Linked DNA regions of Homo sapiens: region 1 is linked to region 2. A link means that fine-mapping ties the variant in region 2 to the expression of a gene that starts in the linked region. Tissue or cell type: whole blood. Region 2 holds a variant in brackets; the other region holds the start of a gene. All regions are shown on one strand. Distances are between the middles of the regions.

Region 1 (8,528 bases), 37 kb before region 2:
CTCATGTGGGATTTGGTACATTGTAGACACTGAAGAAATGTTTGTTAGAACCGAGTAAAATTCACGGACGGCATCAAATGAAGTTTTAGAAAAGCCTTGCTCCCTTGAGAACTGCAACCTTCCTGTCTGCCCCTCCTCACCTCAGTGATGCAAAAGAGATTATTATTCTAAGTGAAGTAACTCAGGAATGGAACACCAAACATCCTAAGTTCTCACTGATATGTGGGAACTAAGCTATGAGGATGCAAAGGCATAAGAATAATACAGTGGACTTTGGGGACTTGGGGGGAAGATGGGAGGGGGCAAAGGATAAAAGACAACAAATACGGTGCAATGTATACTGCTCGGGTGATGGGGGCACCACGATCTCACAAATCTCCACTGAAGAACTTACTCATGTAGCTAAATACCACCTATACCCCAACAACTTATTAAAAAAATGAAACAAACAAACAAAAAAAGGCCTCTTGCTTTGTCTTGCTCTCTCATCCTCTTGATGCATGAAGACCTGAGCTCTGCAGCCATTTTTTTTCCCACTCAGGTGTAAAGGGCTCATAAGTGTCCTGCTTCTTATTTGCATAACAAACAGCATCAAAGCCTTGACATCAAAGGATGAACTCTGCAGTTAGGTTTCCTGGGGGCTTCCGGAAGCCCACCAATTGTTGTGTCAAATTTGTATATTTAAGATGCAGTAGCTTGTGGTAGAAGCGTTTTCTAACAACGGTGGGAATTTCATTAGGTAGAGCTTTGGTTATTCATTACCACTTGGTTGTGGGACTCTGGATTCCTCACACCTTCTTTCACGTATTTTTTACACTATTCTATTTGAAGACAAGCATAGCCTCTAGGTCCAAATCCAGTGGAATTACCTAGGAATATAAAAGTTGGATGTCAGCTGTCATAAATCAACAATAAAAGAAGAGAAGAATTTAGAATTTATTTCCCTTCCCTACTCTAGGAGTTAATAAAATAAAGCATCTTATTTTCTCATGGAGCACGAAAGGTAAATCACAGTGCTTGGTTTCCTTCTGGAAGGAACAATTCAAGCTGAACAAATGATTTCTCATTTCAAAATGTGAATGCTTATTAATTAAATATTATTTTACAGAAACAATAGCCAGGCATGGTGGCTCATGACTATAATCCCAGCATTTTAGGAGGATGAGGCAGGAGGATTGCTTGAGCCCAGGATTTTGAGACCAGCCTGGGCAACATGGTGAAACCCCATCTTTACTAAAAATACAAAAAATTAGCCAGGTGTGGTGGCACACATCTGTAGTTCTAGGTATCCAGGAGGCTGAGGTGAGAGTATCACGTGAGCCTGGGGAGGGTGAGGCTGTGGTGAGCCATGATCACACCACTGCAATCCAGCCTGGGTGACCTGAGTGAGACCCTGTCTCATAAAATAAAAATAAAAATAAAAATGAGTAATAACAGCTGGCTAACACACGCCAGGTACTATACCAGAAGCTCTATAACATTCATTCAGTATTTAGAAGAACCATATAATGTTAACTATCTACAATTTGTAGATGAGAAAACCATATCTCAGAGAGGTCAAGGAACTTAAAGACACACAGCTAGAAAAAGCCCAGCTAAAGTATCAAATTGGGGTTGTCTGAATTGAAAGTTCTGGTTCTCTAAAAGAGAACTCAGGGAGTCATTGGAGCACTATGGGCAGGTTCCATTTTTTTCACAAAAAATCCACCAGGATGCCTAGAAAAAGCAGAGTGGATTCATCTTCTTATTCTCTCTGTCTCTCCAGTCTTTCATACACCCTCCTTATCATTATTTGTCTACGGGTCAAAGGCTCCTTTCTCTTTACTTTGGTGAAATTGGCCCTCCACATACAGGTGGAAACCCCGGGATGCTTGGTGCTATTTACAAACGTCTTTTACGGATTAAAAACACCTTTGGAATTCAATCTTAATTCAATTCAGCATTTACAAGGTACTTCGTAGCTCAAACGTTTGTGGTAGGCACTGTATAAAAAAAAGTATATCATTGTTTTCAGATTATTCAATTACTATTTTCATTAAGTGTGTAAGCAGATATGTTTTGACATGTTTCTTAGTGTATTCAAAATAACCCCAAATTTTTACTGTAGTAAGACTTGTCTTACTCAAGAGTAAAGCAATTTTATTTTAAAATTAGGTGATTTTAGGTACTTTTTTAAAGGTATGATATTCCATTGTATCCTTATGACTCCGTTGATGTGTTGTAAACAGTCTCCAACATTTGAAAACTCCAGGTTGTCTTCCCATAATGTGGGTGGTTTTCTGCATTGATGGTGGCCTTTGTCCACCATCATTTTTAAAATTTTGCCTTACTCTTCAAGGAATCATATCTGCTAGGTTAGAACACCTTTGTTCTAGGTAGTCACAATGGACAGAGGAATTTTCAGCAGCTCATTTCTGTTCTGCAACCCAGAAATGATTTAAAGAGGAAGTTATAGTTCAGTTTTTCCAAGTTAGCATTTCCTGCTTCTTGGTTCTCCTGATTATCGGGCTGCCTTGGGTCCTGAACTAAAACATAGGAAGAAAAAAGGGAAAGTCAGTGAATGTACTCTAGCAAATGATGCCTTGCTTTCAGGCAGCTGTGTCTGGAAAGACTTTGTTTAATATTCAATGTGCATATCCTGGGGAAAAAAATGGTACATGTTTTAGAAATTTTACTGTTTATAACAATGCAGGCAGTCAGTTTCCCGTTTCAAACACAGATAGATACATGCAACACTCAAGATCCTGCAGAGAGGCAGCCAGCATCTATTGTTTAAAAAGGTTTCAAAAAGAATTCGGATTGCTCTTTTCTCTTTTGAATCTGTGTGCCAAATGACAGGGACCAATATTCGTCTTCTTTTTCTGTAAAACTCAGAAAGACACATGAAAGAACCCAGAAATGCATTTCTTAAAGGGATTTAGTGCAGTTATTTTAAATAATTTATGCACGCACACACACATACATATATCCCCCGAGTACATATTTTTTCCCTTTTTACTTGTGTGCAATCAGTAGCTACAATGACTGAAATCCACTTCTTTGGACTGTGACATTTAAGCAAATCTTGTATCTAGAAACCGAAATGCCCAGAGTCTCGCACAAGCTGTTCGTCTGGGCCACCAACTCACACAGCCGCCGCCCAGCGCCTCGGCACGCGTGCTCATCTTGTGTAAAAGTAAAAGTTGCTCATGTCATTAGCTCGGCTCTGAGTTTGCATGAGAAACCAGCGCAGCTCTCGAGCCACGGGAGAAAACACGATCTGCTGCGGAGCCCAGTGACCTGAAACTGTAGCAGTGACTCGAGACCTGTCCTCTCCTCGACGTCGCCCTATAACCCTCCCGCTTTATTTAGGATCCGCTTTTCCGAGAGCAGCCACTCAGGCAACCCCCGGAAGGTTTGTTAGGAGTTTCTCCTTGAAACGCTTTCCGATTCCATCTTTTGAAATCCAGCAGGCGAGAGTCACGACAGACTCCAGGACCTCTTGAGCGCTGTCCGCAGCCCCACGGTAGGAGTAGCCCTAGTGCACGAGACTTGGCGGTGGCTGAAAAGCTCGCCCAAACGCACGCACCACCTCTCTGCGGGGTTGCGGATTGCGGGTTGCGGTCTTTGTCCGCTCGCCCTTCCTCCGGGGCCGCACACTCCCGCATCTGGCCGGCAGGTGGCGCGGTTGGCTCACGATGAGCTGCGGCCGGGGCTGGAGAGGCTCCTCCACCTCCCAGCGGCCGCCCGGCCGCCGGGACCCAGGCTCCCCAGGAAAACTCGGCCCTGCTCTGGAGGGAGTCAGAGGAGGGGCGGCCTGGGAAGGGGAAGGGAGGCCTCATTGCTAGGAATCAGTGCCCCTGCCAGCGCCTGGGGAAATGCACCGAGTGGCGTTGGGGACCGGTCCCTGGGACACCGGCTGCGCTGCCTTCGCCGGACCGCTCTTAGGTGGCCGCGTCCACGGCTCGGGCATCGGGAAAAGACCACAGCCCGATGGTGCCAGTGCCCCCGGGGCCGGAGCAGCCGGGCGGGGCTCTGCGGGTCCTCCTGCTCGCCGTCTTCTCCCGGGGCAGGGAGGGCTGCCCCGGCTAGGTCGGAGCGGAGAGTCGCAGCAGCCGCTCCGGGCAGCTTCCCAGTCCCGGTCTGCCTTGTCTGTGCGGCTGCAAGTCCCCGCACCCACACTTAAGCCTTTCACTTCTACCCCACCGCTCCCAGACGGGCTAGGCCCGGTTCCAGGGACTGCCCCCAACCCTGCCCCCGGGAAATCCACAACTGGTTCCCTGCCCAAGGCCATCTCGGGGCGTCCTGGGCCCTGGGCGAGGTCCACGGCGTGTGCAGGGGGACGGGGCCAGCGGGGACTTCCTTACTGCTAGAAAGTCATTCGTTCAGTCTCTGGAGACAGTGACGGAGCCCTGCTGCGGACTGGACGTTGGGGACCAAGTAGGTCCCCGCTCTCCAGGCATCTGGGGAGCCAGGGAAGAAGCGAGTGATAGAGCCACAAAACTCCCCGCAAAGAGTATTTCAGAGGGGGAAGCGCCATAAAGACAAAACAGGGCAAGGTGGCAGAGGGTGGCGGTGGCAGGCGCGAGTCTGCAGCTCAGCCCGGGCGCGCTGGACGCAGACACGTCGACTCTCCTAAAGAAGCAACCGCAGGTCAGCTTAGACTTCTTTTATTTCAATAAAAGAGCGTTTTCCTCCATCTTAAACCGCCCGTGGTGGGAGAAAAGGTTTCCAACCTCTTCTCTGGCTCCCCTCGGTCAATTCCGAGCTTTTCCAAAGTCCCTCCGCCGTCCAGGGGCTCGACCTTCGAGGTAACGTGGGGGATCCCGCTGGCTCCCTCCGGCAGGCGGGGGCGGGGACCGGCCGTGCTCGCCCCCTAGAGCCCCGGGAGACCGCGCGCCCCGTGGAGCCCGGAGGGGGCGGAACCCTGGGGCGGGCCCTGCTCGGTGAAGGCGGGGCTCGGCCGCCCTGTCTGCGCCGCCATTGGCCGCGGGCCCCGGACTGGCGGGCTCACGTCACCGGCCGGGCCCGCCCCCTTGGCAATGTCTTCAGCCCGCTGCTCTCCTAACTTAAGCATTTATTCCACTGGGATAGAAGCGGCAGGAGCAGCGTTGGCACCGGCGAACCATGGCTGGGATTTTCTATTTCGCCCTATTTTCGTGTCTCTTCGGGATTTGCGACGCTGTCACAGGTTCCAGGGTATACCCCGCGAATGAAGGTAAGAGCGGGACGGCCTTTCTGTGGTCGGGGACAGCGAGGGGCCATCGCGGGTGAGGGGTCCTCAGGAGCGCAGGGCCAGGTGGTGCGGGGGGAGCCCAGTGTGAATGGTGCGTCCCGATTCGGGAGAAGGGGGCTGAGGCGAGGGGATCGGCGAAGGGGCAGCGGGGAACCGCCGGACAGCCTGCCCCGAGGCGGTGACCCGTGCACGCGGCGGGTCTGTCCAAGTTTGTAACCAAAGGCCAAAGTTTATCAGCATCCGCCAGAGAGGCCCGCTCGAGGCGCCCTGAGGGGATGCACGGGAGACAACGCCGGGATTTAAAAAAAAAATTACAAGAACCACGTCCTCTCCTGAGCCAGCCCGGGGCGAGGGGAAAACGCAGCCTGGAGCACAGTGAAGGCTTGGTGCTCCCGGATTCTAGCGAAAGCCTTTCGAGCTCTGGTTTCTGCAAAGTTTCCCGAGCCCTGCGCTTCTCGGGACCGGGCTGCGGGGCCTGCTCCGCAGCGCAGCGGTCGTGGCGCCGCTCGTCAGGCGCCAGTGACCTGATTTCTAGCACCCGGAGTCAGACACCTTTCTCCTCGCCAAGCCCAGCGCCCCGAGGGTGCGATTGCGGGCCTGAGGGGCCCGAGCTCTTCGCCCCGCAGACTTGGGGAACCCGCCGGCAAGTTGAACGCAGTCGAGTTTTAGCTTTTCGCCCCAGAATTGCACACAGTTTAGAGCTAACGTGCGGGGTCGACGGGACCCGTCTGGGTGCTCAGTTTTCTGTGCATCCGTTCGGACGTGCTGGGAGGATTGTATGTGCCTGTGTGTCTGTGTCGGGAGGTGGGGCGGGGCGGGGGGGCGGTGATCATTTAGTTTCTGAGAAACCCAGGGAGAGGCGAACTGTGTGTGTGTGTGTGTGTATGTGTGGTGTGTGTGTGCATGTCTGCGTGTGTGTGCATGTCTGCATGTGTGGTGTGTGTGCATGTCTGCGTGTGTGTGCATGTCTGCGTGTGTGTGCCTGTGTGTGTGCGCGCGCGTGCAACTGCGTGTATGTAGGTGCGCGAATGCCTGCGTGGAAGCGGACGCGGAGGATTGTATGTCTGTGCGCAGATGTCCTGAGTGTGTGCGCGTGTGTTCGAGTGTATGCTCGTGCTCTGTTCCAGCGTATGCTGGTGCTCTGGCCTGCGTGCATCTAGTCTCACATCCGTCTCTCATTCTTCTCCTTTCCGGCATCCATCTATCTATCCGTCCGTCCATCCGTCTATCTATCCATCCATGCATCCATCCATCTCTCCGTGCATCCGTCCGTCCGTCCATGCATCCATCCATAATGCATCCATCCATATATCTGTCCGTCCGTCCGTCCATCCATCCCTCCATCCATCCACCCATTCATCTATCCATCCATCCACCCATCCATCCATCCATTCATCTTTCCATCTCTCCAGACATCCGTCCATCCATCCCTGTGTAATCTATCGTTTTCTCTGTTCCGAAGGAGGGAGCCAAAAACCAACTTAGCCTTGGCTGGGCAGCCGGTACCCGGAGCCCTCCAGACGGAGGCTCTGAGAGATTTATACACCTGCCCACAGACATCGCTTGGGAGGAAAGGGGCCCTCTCTCGCCCTCTGGATCTCCCATCTCCTTCCGACGTGGCTTCTGGTGGTTCTGGTGCCATCTCGGCCGTCGCCGCCCCTCGGTCCCTAGGGTTATTCATTCCCCTGAGAGGAATCGTGGATCCCGCGTTCTCCTGGCCACTTCACACACTTGTTAGGACGTCCCCTGAGACCTCTCTCGCCCCAGATGTAGAGACTGTTTTCTTTCTTTTTTTTAAACCCCCTCTTTTTTTGGGGGGGGGGGAGAAAAACTTGGGAGCCCAAGACAAAAAGGCTCTGAGAGCCCTAGGCTAATGTTGAAGGGGAGGGAGGGAGGTCTGTTCCCCTCCCCTCCCCCACCTCCCCCTTAAAAATTAATTCACTTTGTTGCTTTCTATTCCCATCACGTTTCCTTTTCTCTCTTTTACCCTCCCTTTCTACTCCCTCCTTTTTTTGTAAATTGGGTCTTATTGTTTCCTTTGTGTCCCTAATCCACCTTACATAAATCCAAATGGATGTAGCGGGCTTTTCTCTAGGGACAGAGAGAAGAGAATGGTTGCGGTGGGGGTTGGCGGTGGGGAGAGGAGAGGAGGGAAGGGGGCGGGAACTCCAGGCGGGAGCGACCCAGGGAAGGCTCTACATTTTAAAATCATTAACAGACCCCAGGAATTCAGACTCCCCGGGAAAAGTAGGGGAAAGAGACTGATTTTTAACTCCATTGACTTTGAGGTGAAATGAGAGGGAAAGTGGGCAGAATCCAGGGGTCTGGGGGTAAGCTTGAGTGTTGGGGTGCGCATGAGCACGGATGGCGGCTTCCCATTCCCACCCCTCCCCCAGCCTGAAGAGCCAGCCTGGCTGATCAAATTAATAACCCAGTGGTTCCTTTGAGGTGGGCCTTTCGACCCCCAGGACTGCAGATCTCGGTGGGAAAGAGAGGTTTTGAATTCATTGCGTCCCTTTGGATGTTCCCCTTACCTAGCGCTCTTCTAGCCTGAGCGGGGTACCGCAGCTCGGTGGGCTGTCCTCCCTTCCCCCCAAGCTTTGACGCACTCAGGTGTAGCACAAGCACACTAAAGCCGTTAGGCAGCACTCCATACCTAAAATTCAAGCCAGTGATTTCCTACGGGTGGAAGACGAGTCTCTGATTGTCCCCCAACACATCTTGAGAAAGAGAGAATACTTTCGGTACGTTTGCATTCTGATTCTGCACGTCTGGCATTCCCTCTTTCTGAAACTTTGATATTTAAAAAAGCAGCGGATACCATATTCAGGGACTATTTACTTGGTTGTGGAAGGGAAAATGTTAGGGAGAGCCTTTTCCTGACCCTTTGGATAGGATACTCTCTGATAGAAGAGAGAATTCACTTGTGGCTCTGTCACCCTGATGAGTTATGTGGTCATCTGAAACTTGCAAAAACAAATAATTCTAGTAGATACCAGACAGAGATGAATGCAGATTTTGCTCTGGAGTGTAACTGCTCTACATAGATGTATTTATCTTTTTGAATTGTACTTCAGATTCTCTATTCATCCTTTTTAGAAAAATGAATCAAGTGAGTCCTAGGATGGAATTTTAAATGTTAAGCAAGTTGAATAAATAAGAACCTGCAGATTTAAAGAGGGGGAGAAGATCAAATGAGTAATGATTATTTACATAAGTGAGCCCAAGTTTAGGTTTTGATCAGTGTTGGATATGCACAGCCTCAGCACATATGGAAACGCTCAGGCAAATGGTTTTTGTGTTATTGGCTTTT
Region 2 (8,000 bases):
GGCAAAGGTTGCAGTGAGTGGAGATCGTGGTATATTGCACTCCAGCCTGGGCAACAGAGTGAGACTCCATCTCAGAAAAAACAAAAAGAAAAAAGAAAACTGGCTTGTAAAGATGCACAAGTGCCAAGTGCCAATAAATGAGTGTACCAACACATCTTTCTTCTTCTATCTGCTCCCCTCCTCCACACCCTTCCAGCCTTCATTGTATTGGGGGATTACAAGTCTTCCTAAATCTGAGTGTTGATCCTGTGATCACTCCTACTCTGAAACCACCATTGGCTTTTAAATATTAGCTCTTATTTCTACCACTACTACTCCCGTGACTACTCCGCGTTACTGGGGCCCTGTGTCAAAGCTCTAACGTCGGTGAGAGGAGTTTACGCTGTATTTTAGGATAGGTCTCCAAGCTCTTTCTTCAAAGCTCCTTCACTATTCTAAGAATCTAGCTGCTGTGCCTTTTTCTACACAATTTACCCTGCCCCAAAGGCCCTCCTGCTGGTCACAATTTTGCACATTCCACAAGGTTCTACAGAAGCATCATTTTTTTCTTCTCTCTCCTAACTCCCACCAGCATTTTGATTGCGTTCCTTCATGTCACTTATGCTGTGTAATGCCATCTTATCGGACTTGTTAGGGCACAGAGTACAGTATTACTCAGTGAGTAATTGTTCTGCCATTTATTAGCTATTTGACTTCAGGCAAATTAATAATTTTTCTCTGTACTTGGTTTTCTCATATATAAAATGCAAGTAGTAATAGTTCCTACAACATCAGCTTGTCGTCATAAGTAAATACGTGAAACACACATGAACCGTGGCTGGGACGCAGAAATCCTGCAATCAATATTAGCGCTTACTCCTACTCCTGCTACTGCTGCTACTACTCCTGGATTGTCATGGCCCTGTGTCAGGACCTTGAACTTGGTAAAAGGAGTGTAGGCTGGGCTCTAGACCCCACTTTCCCCTTCAGTTGGATACTCTTTTTCAGTGAACAACCTGTACAACTATATATGGCAGTTCTGTACCAGAATCTATGCACTTCCCAGGCTAAGTCTGTATTTATCTTTGCATTCACTATAGCACCTAAAACAATACAGTACATAGAGTCCTATTCAGTCATTGCACGCCACGTGTGATCATTGAAATGAACGAAGAAACAAATGTAAAAAGGAAAATGTAAAAATGTCAATATGGTTTTATTTGTAAGCAGCCCATTGATTTTTGAAGCATACTCACCGAATACATCATGTATTTTCAGTGAGAAAGCAGTATTTGTCACAATACTAGAAATGTCATAAATTTAAAGAGTAATTGAGTCTGAATTTTCTGCAGGTTTATTTACTAGATCAAAGAGTGACTTCAACTTTCAGTGCTTATTTTATTTGCCAGCATAAACTTACAGGTTCAGTCAAATGCCAAGAAAATAAGTTAATAATCTAAATTATGCAGATTCTGGCAAATTCTCTTTCTTTTGGGGGAGAAAAAAAGAGAGAGCTTTGAGTTTTTATCTCACTTCAGCAAATCCAACTGACTATAATAGTAAGAATAAAACTCTAGCAATTAATCTAATAGCTCTAGGCTGCTAGTCATTCCAGAAAAGTGACATTACACAGAATATACTAGTTACTCTCATTGCATGTCATTGATATATAATTCAATTGATTTTCACATTTTTTACACTCCAAAATGAAATACAACTTTTGTCATGTCACCAGATTGGAATTCATTGACAATACATTAACATGCCAAAAATAATATTACACACAAGAATAATGTAGAAATAAATTACAGGTAGAGCAGTATCCCTAAGGAGATTTTCATTTGTGTCCTATAACAGAAGACTTATAACCCTACTCATACATCTGTTTCATCCCACTACGTTTTAGACTCTTCGTTCAATTCAATAAATTACTCATTTTGCCACACACTCAGCACTCTGTCAGTTTTGCTGGGCAGTATACTTACACAAAAGAGTCTGTATAATTCTAAAGTATAACCCCCCCTTTTTTTTTAGCAAACAAATACAGAGACTTTCATGCAAATGAATCCTTGAAAAAGATAGTCTGGATAACTGTAAGGCTGCCACAACTTTTGTGGAAATGTTTTGGAACTGTCTTCTTCAAAATGTCTGGGACCTTCTTTTTATTGATAATCTCCTCCTCCTCCTTCTTCGTCATCGTCATCTTTGTCTTTCTTCTTCCTTCTTTCTTCTTCTTCTTTTCGATGGAATCTCACTCTATTGCCTAGGCTAGAGTGCAATGGCACCATCATAGCTCATTGCAGCCTCCAACTCTTAGGTTCAAATGATCCTCCGGCCTCAGCCTCCTGAGTAGCTAGGGCTACAGGTGTGCACCACTGCACCTTGCTAAATTTTTAATTTTTTGTAGAGATGAGTGGTCTTATTTTGTGGCCCTGGCTAGTCCTAAACTCCTGGCTTCAAGCACTGTTCACCTCCTTGGCCTCCCAAAGTACTTGCATTACAGATGTGAGCCACTGTGCCAGGCCTGGGGCCTTCTTTTTAAATGTGCTTAGTTCTGAACAATTTTGTCCCTTAAGGTGGATTTAATTTTTGGAAATCAAATAATTCACTGACCAGGCTATTGATAAATGAGATCAGCCATACTGGGTAATATTGGGTTTTACTCAAGAACAATGAGTGATTGCAAAGTAACAGACTATTTTTAGGAGTGACTTTTAAATTGCTTTGAGTGTACTTTCAAGAGAAGTATTTGGAGCACTGAGAACATAAGTGGAAGAAGAATGTGGAAGATCTCCAGCATCCTTGGATTTAGCTGTCAATTACAATGCTACTTCCATGAGAGAAGGCTTTGTTTTTTGGGCCTTGCTTGTTTTTTGCAGGACTCTCAGAGCCTAAAACTGAGCCTGACACACAGTTGTTATTGAAAGGAATGAATGAATGGATTAAATGCAACAGTTCACAAATGCATTCAAAGTCCCACGGCATAGAGATTTCTCTCTCTCTCTTTGTTTTAGCCTTTATGGCATTAATTTAAAATAATTTATGTTAAGGTCGCTATGTATTTACCTGATGAGAACTTGGCTTTGTGCTAAGCACTTTATTTTCAGTATTTCATTGTGTCACCATGACTTGGTGAAATAGTGACTGTCATTATCCTCTTTTCATAGATGAGGAAACTAAAGCCCAGAGAAGCTAAGCAGCTTGCCCAAAGTCACACAGCTAATAGGTGAGGAGTCTGGATTCAACCTGCAAAGTCTGGCCACTGACCAAGCCTTCACCCTTAACTACAAATCTGGGCTGCTTTTCAGCACATCTTTGTTGTCCTGATTTGGTCATATTCTCACATTATGTTTCAATCATTCTAAACTGGGTATATAATAACCCCCTTTGAGAGACAAGGGAATTGACCAAAGTACATTGTTTAGAGGGATTTTCTGAAGAATGACTTCATGGATGAAGCATGGACTTATTATTACCTCCTTAT[G/A]GCCTCTGTCTCCAAATGTAATCACATTGGGGGTTAGGGCTTAATTATTGGGAATTAATGAGGATTTGGGGAAACATCTTTCAAGAATGCCAGGGTCTAGTGCAGAGCATCGTAAGGCCGGTAATCTGGAGGGCAGCCTTCAGTGAGCAGGTTCGCATTCTAGTACAGGGATTAAAAACCATTTCTCATTTAAAGCCCACATTTCCAAAAGGCTTATAATCTTTAGAGGAATACAATACAAGAGGGTGGGAGACTGTTTCTAATTTTTATTCTGAATAATTATCTGATCTGATCATGGACAAGTTCCTTAGGCTGCCACATTAGTTTCCTCATCTAGAAAATAGCTAACTGGACAAGGTCATCCACAGGGTGCCCGGTAGCTCTTAAGTGTCAAAATGAGTGATAAGATAAAGTGCTCTTTTGCCAAAGATAAGAAGGACTATCTTTGTTGACAGTTATCTAGAAAGGCTTCCAAGAATAGGAACTTGGTAAACTGTAGTTAAATAAAGCTGGTAAAAGAGGAATGAATATCCCTTGAGCCAAGAACAGGAGTTAGCTGCCACACCCTGGGGTTGAAGAGACTGGGTAGGTAGGTGGAGCTGAGTTTTGAAAGATTTTTGAAGAGCAGAGGAAGAGTTTGGTCTCTACCCCTGGCTCGTTCATCAGATATTTCTTGATTGCCATCTATCTTCCAGCCATTGAGAGCCATTGATCATGTAAGATTCTTTCCCTACTGGAGTTGGGAAAGATATTTCATCCAACCAAAGGGAATGTGCCCTTGATATGAAGATTTGTAATGTTTACCAAAAAATCTTTGTTCTACCACTTTAGGCATAGAAGAAGAAGATAAGAAAAGCCTCACAGTAAAGTTGACTTGCAGGTTATATTTAAAGGATGATTGTCTTTATTTGAACAAAAGGAGAAAATAACAAATCCGTTGTTTGAAGAGGAAAAAAAACAGAAAAAAAGAAGTGCCTTTGATTTGGCATAATTGATGCTTTATTGCTTTGTAGATAGGTGGTTTAGGGCATTGGACAAAAGACGATAATGTTTATTTAGATTTGGGATTTGGGACTGTTCTAGAAAGTCAATATATGGTTGTTACTTTTAGTAGCTGTAAGAATGGCATAAGATAACTTAGTGGAAGGTAAGTGCTTTCTGAGCTTTTCTGTCTGATGATGAACCCTAGTGGTTGCAAAAATGAGTTTATACCTTAGAATCATTTGAGGTACTGATTACAAATGTACACTTTTAACATCAATCCTCAAGACTTTAGAGTTTGGAGTCTGTGATCTGAATTTTTCACAAGCTCCTAGGTGGTTCTGATTAATTTAGGTTGAGGAACAGCATTTTGGAAGCCACAGGTAAACTTGTGTATTGCCCACACCACTAAGGCTGACTCTGGATGACACCCAGTTGAAAGTGATTTCCAGGTTCCCTTGCTAAGTAAAAGATCCAAGAGAGAGAATAGTGCTGCTTATTTCTTTTTAACTGGATAAGATTGAAAAGGTCTGTGGATCCAATAGCGATGGAGAACGTGCAGAAGCTGCACCCCGAATTGCCGATGAAGTTAATCCCAGACAGCTAGAAATTAGCCAGTATAGCACATATGCTTAGATTGGATGCTGTGAATATATGCTTTCTGGTCAACAAAAAAGTTAAATCATGTAGATGCTCAAGTGAAGAGCACCTCTGTCGACTGGAAAGAGTTGAGTTATTTACCTTTTTTCCCCCAGAAACTGTTTCTTGAGGTGGAAAAGCAACTGGAAGTACAACTACACAGAACTGAAAGGCTATTGAGTTTGATTATGGGCATAAAATTAAATTTTCAGCTAAATGTGACAGCCCTAGTAGAACAAAGAAGAACCAATCAAAAAGTTATTGACTATTGAGACTTTTAGACAGAGCTAACAAATTGACCATGGGTTCCAGGGATAGTCACAGCCTGGAAGTTGCTTATTCTCTTTCTTCTAAAAGGTAGGGAAGTTCACACAACCACAGCCACTGTAGCCAGGCCAGGGAAGAAGGCCAATTTAGGCATTTACCAGCATGTGCAAGATGCAGTTTTTCATCTGAGGGGGTGAGACCTTTTCTAGGTGCCTGTGTTAGAACTTGGAGCACTTGCAGGTAATGAGAACGCATTCCAATACAAGAAAAACCTATTTAGGGCAGTACTGGATATGGATTAGCCAAGAAGATCCACAGATCAAAATAGAATCCAGGGCAGAAACAGAGCAGAGAAATTTCCCAGAGCCACTTATGGGTAAGTGGAACACCAATGATTTACTAATTACAGGCATGTTTTTGCACAAATTCATTTTTTAGTAAACAAGATATGCTTTATGCTACTTGCAGGCCATTCTTAAATCATTCTTTTGGGAATCCTTATAAAGACATCAGTTAAAAATCTCATCTGTTATCCTTCAAGAGAAGTAGTTGGCATGATTTTTGAAATTGAGTCCCTGCCTACCTAGATTCAACAGATTAAATATGAATTATCAGTGGATAATTACCTAGGGCTGTTCTTATATGTATATTTTATTTCCTTAAGTGTGAAGCACATGGAGTGTCACGCAGATGTGGGAAAAGGTAACTCACAAGGATCTTTTGCCCAGAACTCTTCTGGTAGGGCGCTGCTGGCTCTTCCAGTATGCACCCAAGGTGGCAAAGAGTCTGCCTGTCAATGGTATCCAGAAGTGACAGTGGGGATAGCCCTGGAGAAGGTTGTTTGGATTTTCATAAGGGAGAGATTCTCTCTCTGATCTTTATAATCTGAATCCTACCCTCACAGGCTTTTTTTTTTTTTTTTTTTTTTTTTTTGACACTAGTCACAAAATTAACAGTCAGGATGCTTTTGAAATCAGAACAATTTCCCTGGAGGAGGCACAGCCCCCGGTACCATCATTATTATATATGTTTTGAAACTCCATAGACTGGAACTCGTTCAGCGTGCTGTAATCTGTGTGTTTAGAAGCTGTATTGACTTTAGGAGTCACACAGATGGGTGTAGACCCATGTTTCAACATTTTTCTTTCAGGGACACACCTTTGAAATTCTGCTTGGAACATATCAGCTTCCTCCTCCCTCCGAGTCATCAGCCATCTCAGTGAATAGCGCATCTGCATCCTTTATTGATACATACGGGGGCAGGGGTGAGGGCAGTTACTGCCTCTGCCTCTGTTTTCTCATTCAAATATTAGCAAAGGTCCACAAACAGAAATAGAGAAACCAGATTAAAGAGGACAGATTGTATTTATGGTAGGCTGTAACACATTTTGATCAACAACAACAAAAAAGTTTTTGGAGCTATGGGGCTGCCTGATGGTAGGATACATACTGGGTTTATTATAATGCATGTACATTGTTCAATGTAACTTTCCCATCATTTTTATGCCAAGGCCATATGTATGGCTCAGATGAAATGTAACTGGCAATTTTTCATTGTTGTTGTTCTTTATTTACCTTTCTCTTTTAATCATCTCCCTGTTCCAACTAAACAAATCACCCCCAAAAGCCAGTGATTAAACACAAGTGAGTTCAAAGAGCCAAGGCAAGTCTGCCCAAGAGTGGCCGACTCCCCCTACAGAAGGCCAAGTCTGCCAATTGCAGTCTTCACTCAGAGCCTGGTAGTAAAACTGCTGAGAATAAGGTGGTTTCAGAGGCAAACAGTCACCTGGCCCAGAGGGCTTCTGCAATGGAGCCCCCTCAGAAGGGCTAGGCTATGTGAGAAGTGGTGGGTGTTGGCCGTGTCAAACAGCTCCTTCCAGTAGGCATCCAGGAACTGAGTGGTGTGCACCCCTTAGGAGGCCAAGCCTAAGGCACCAGCTACAGACAAGGTGCCCAGGTGGCAGAATGCAGCCCCTGGCCCGGCCAAGGCTGTGTGGATCTATAACAGACAATTTTGGCATGACTGCATTGACTTTCACTCTGGTCTTCTGGGTTCTAAAATGTTGGTTCCTTAAGTAGGAACTAAAAGTTAATATCTGCCCTTGTGATGACTAGGAATTTGGTTAATTCATGTGCCTGCTTAGCAAATTAAAATGGCCAGTAATCAGAACTAGAATGTTAAATCTCAACTGATCTGAGTTTTTCTCATCTTTTGATAGAATAAATTGAACTATCTGGCTGGGCACAGTGGCTCACACCTGTCATCCCAGCAGTTTGGGAGGCTAAGGCAGTCAGATTACCTGAGTTCAGGAGTTTTAGACCAGTCTGGCCATTATGGTGAAACCCCGTCTCTACTAAAAATACAAAAATTAGCCACGCATGGCAGCACGTGCCTATAATCCCAGCTACTCTGGAGGCTGAGGCAGGAGAATTGCTTGAACCCTGGAGGCAGAGCTTGCAGTGAGCCAAGATCATGCCACTGCACTCCAGCCTGGGCGACAGAGTGAGACCCTGTCTCAAAAAAAAAAAAAAGAATAAATTGAAATATCTGTGTGACAATTGCCTGGTGTTTGAAATTCCCCTTTTCAAACATCCCAGCATATTTGGTTTGTCTCAGTGAGCTCTCCTTTGAAAGAGCACTGGCTACTCC

The links. PIP is the estimated chance that this variant, and not a neighbour inherited with it, causes the effect.
Region 1: EPHA4 starts here. The variant in region 2 is fine-mapped to the expression of EPHA4 in whole blood (INTERVAL, PIP 0.97).

Annotation. Positions count from the first base shown.
Region 1 is chr2:221,568,827-221,577,354 of GRCh38, reverse strand. It overlaps EPHA4 (EPH receptor A4), which reads left to right and starts at 5,051. Exons shown (of 18, transcript NM_004438.5): 1 at 5,051-5,197. The coding sequence starts at 5,107. RefSeq lists an enhancer at 370-882 and silencers at 3,586-3,745, 3,796-4,075, 4,676-5,095.
Region 2 is chr2:221,532,009-221,540,008 of GRCh38, reverse strand. The region is part of intron 3 of EPHA4 (EPH receptor A4); the gene reads left to right. It also overlaps the pseudogene TMEM256P2. Among named protein-coding and RNA genes, the nearest start is that of EPHA4, 36 kb to the left of the region's middle. The variant G/A (reference allele first, on the strand shown) is at 3,464.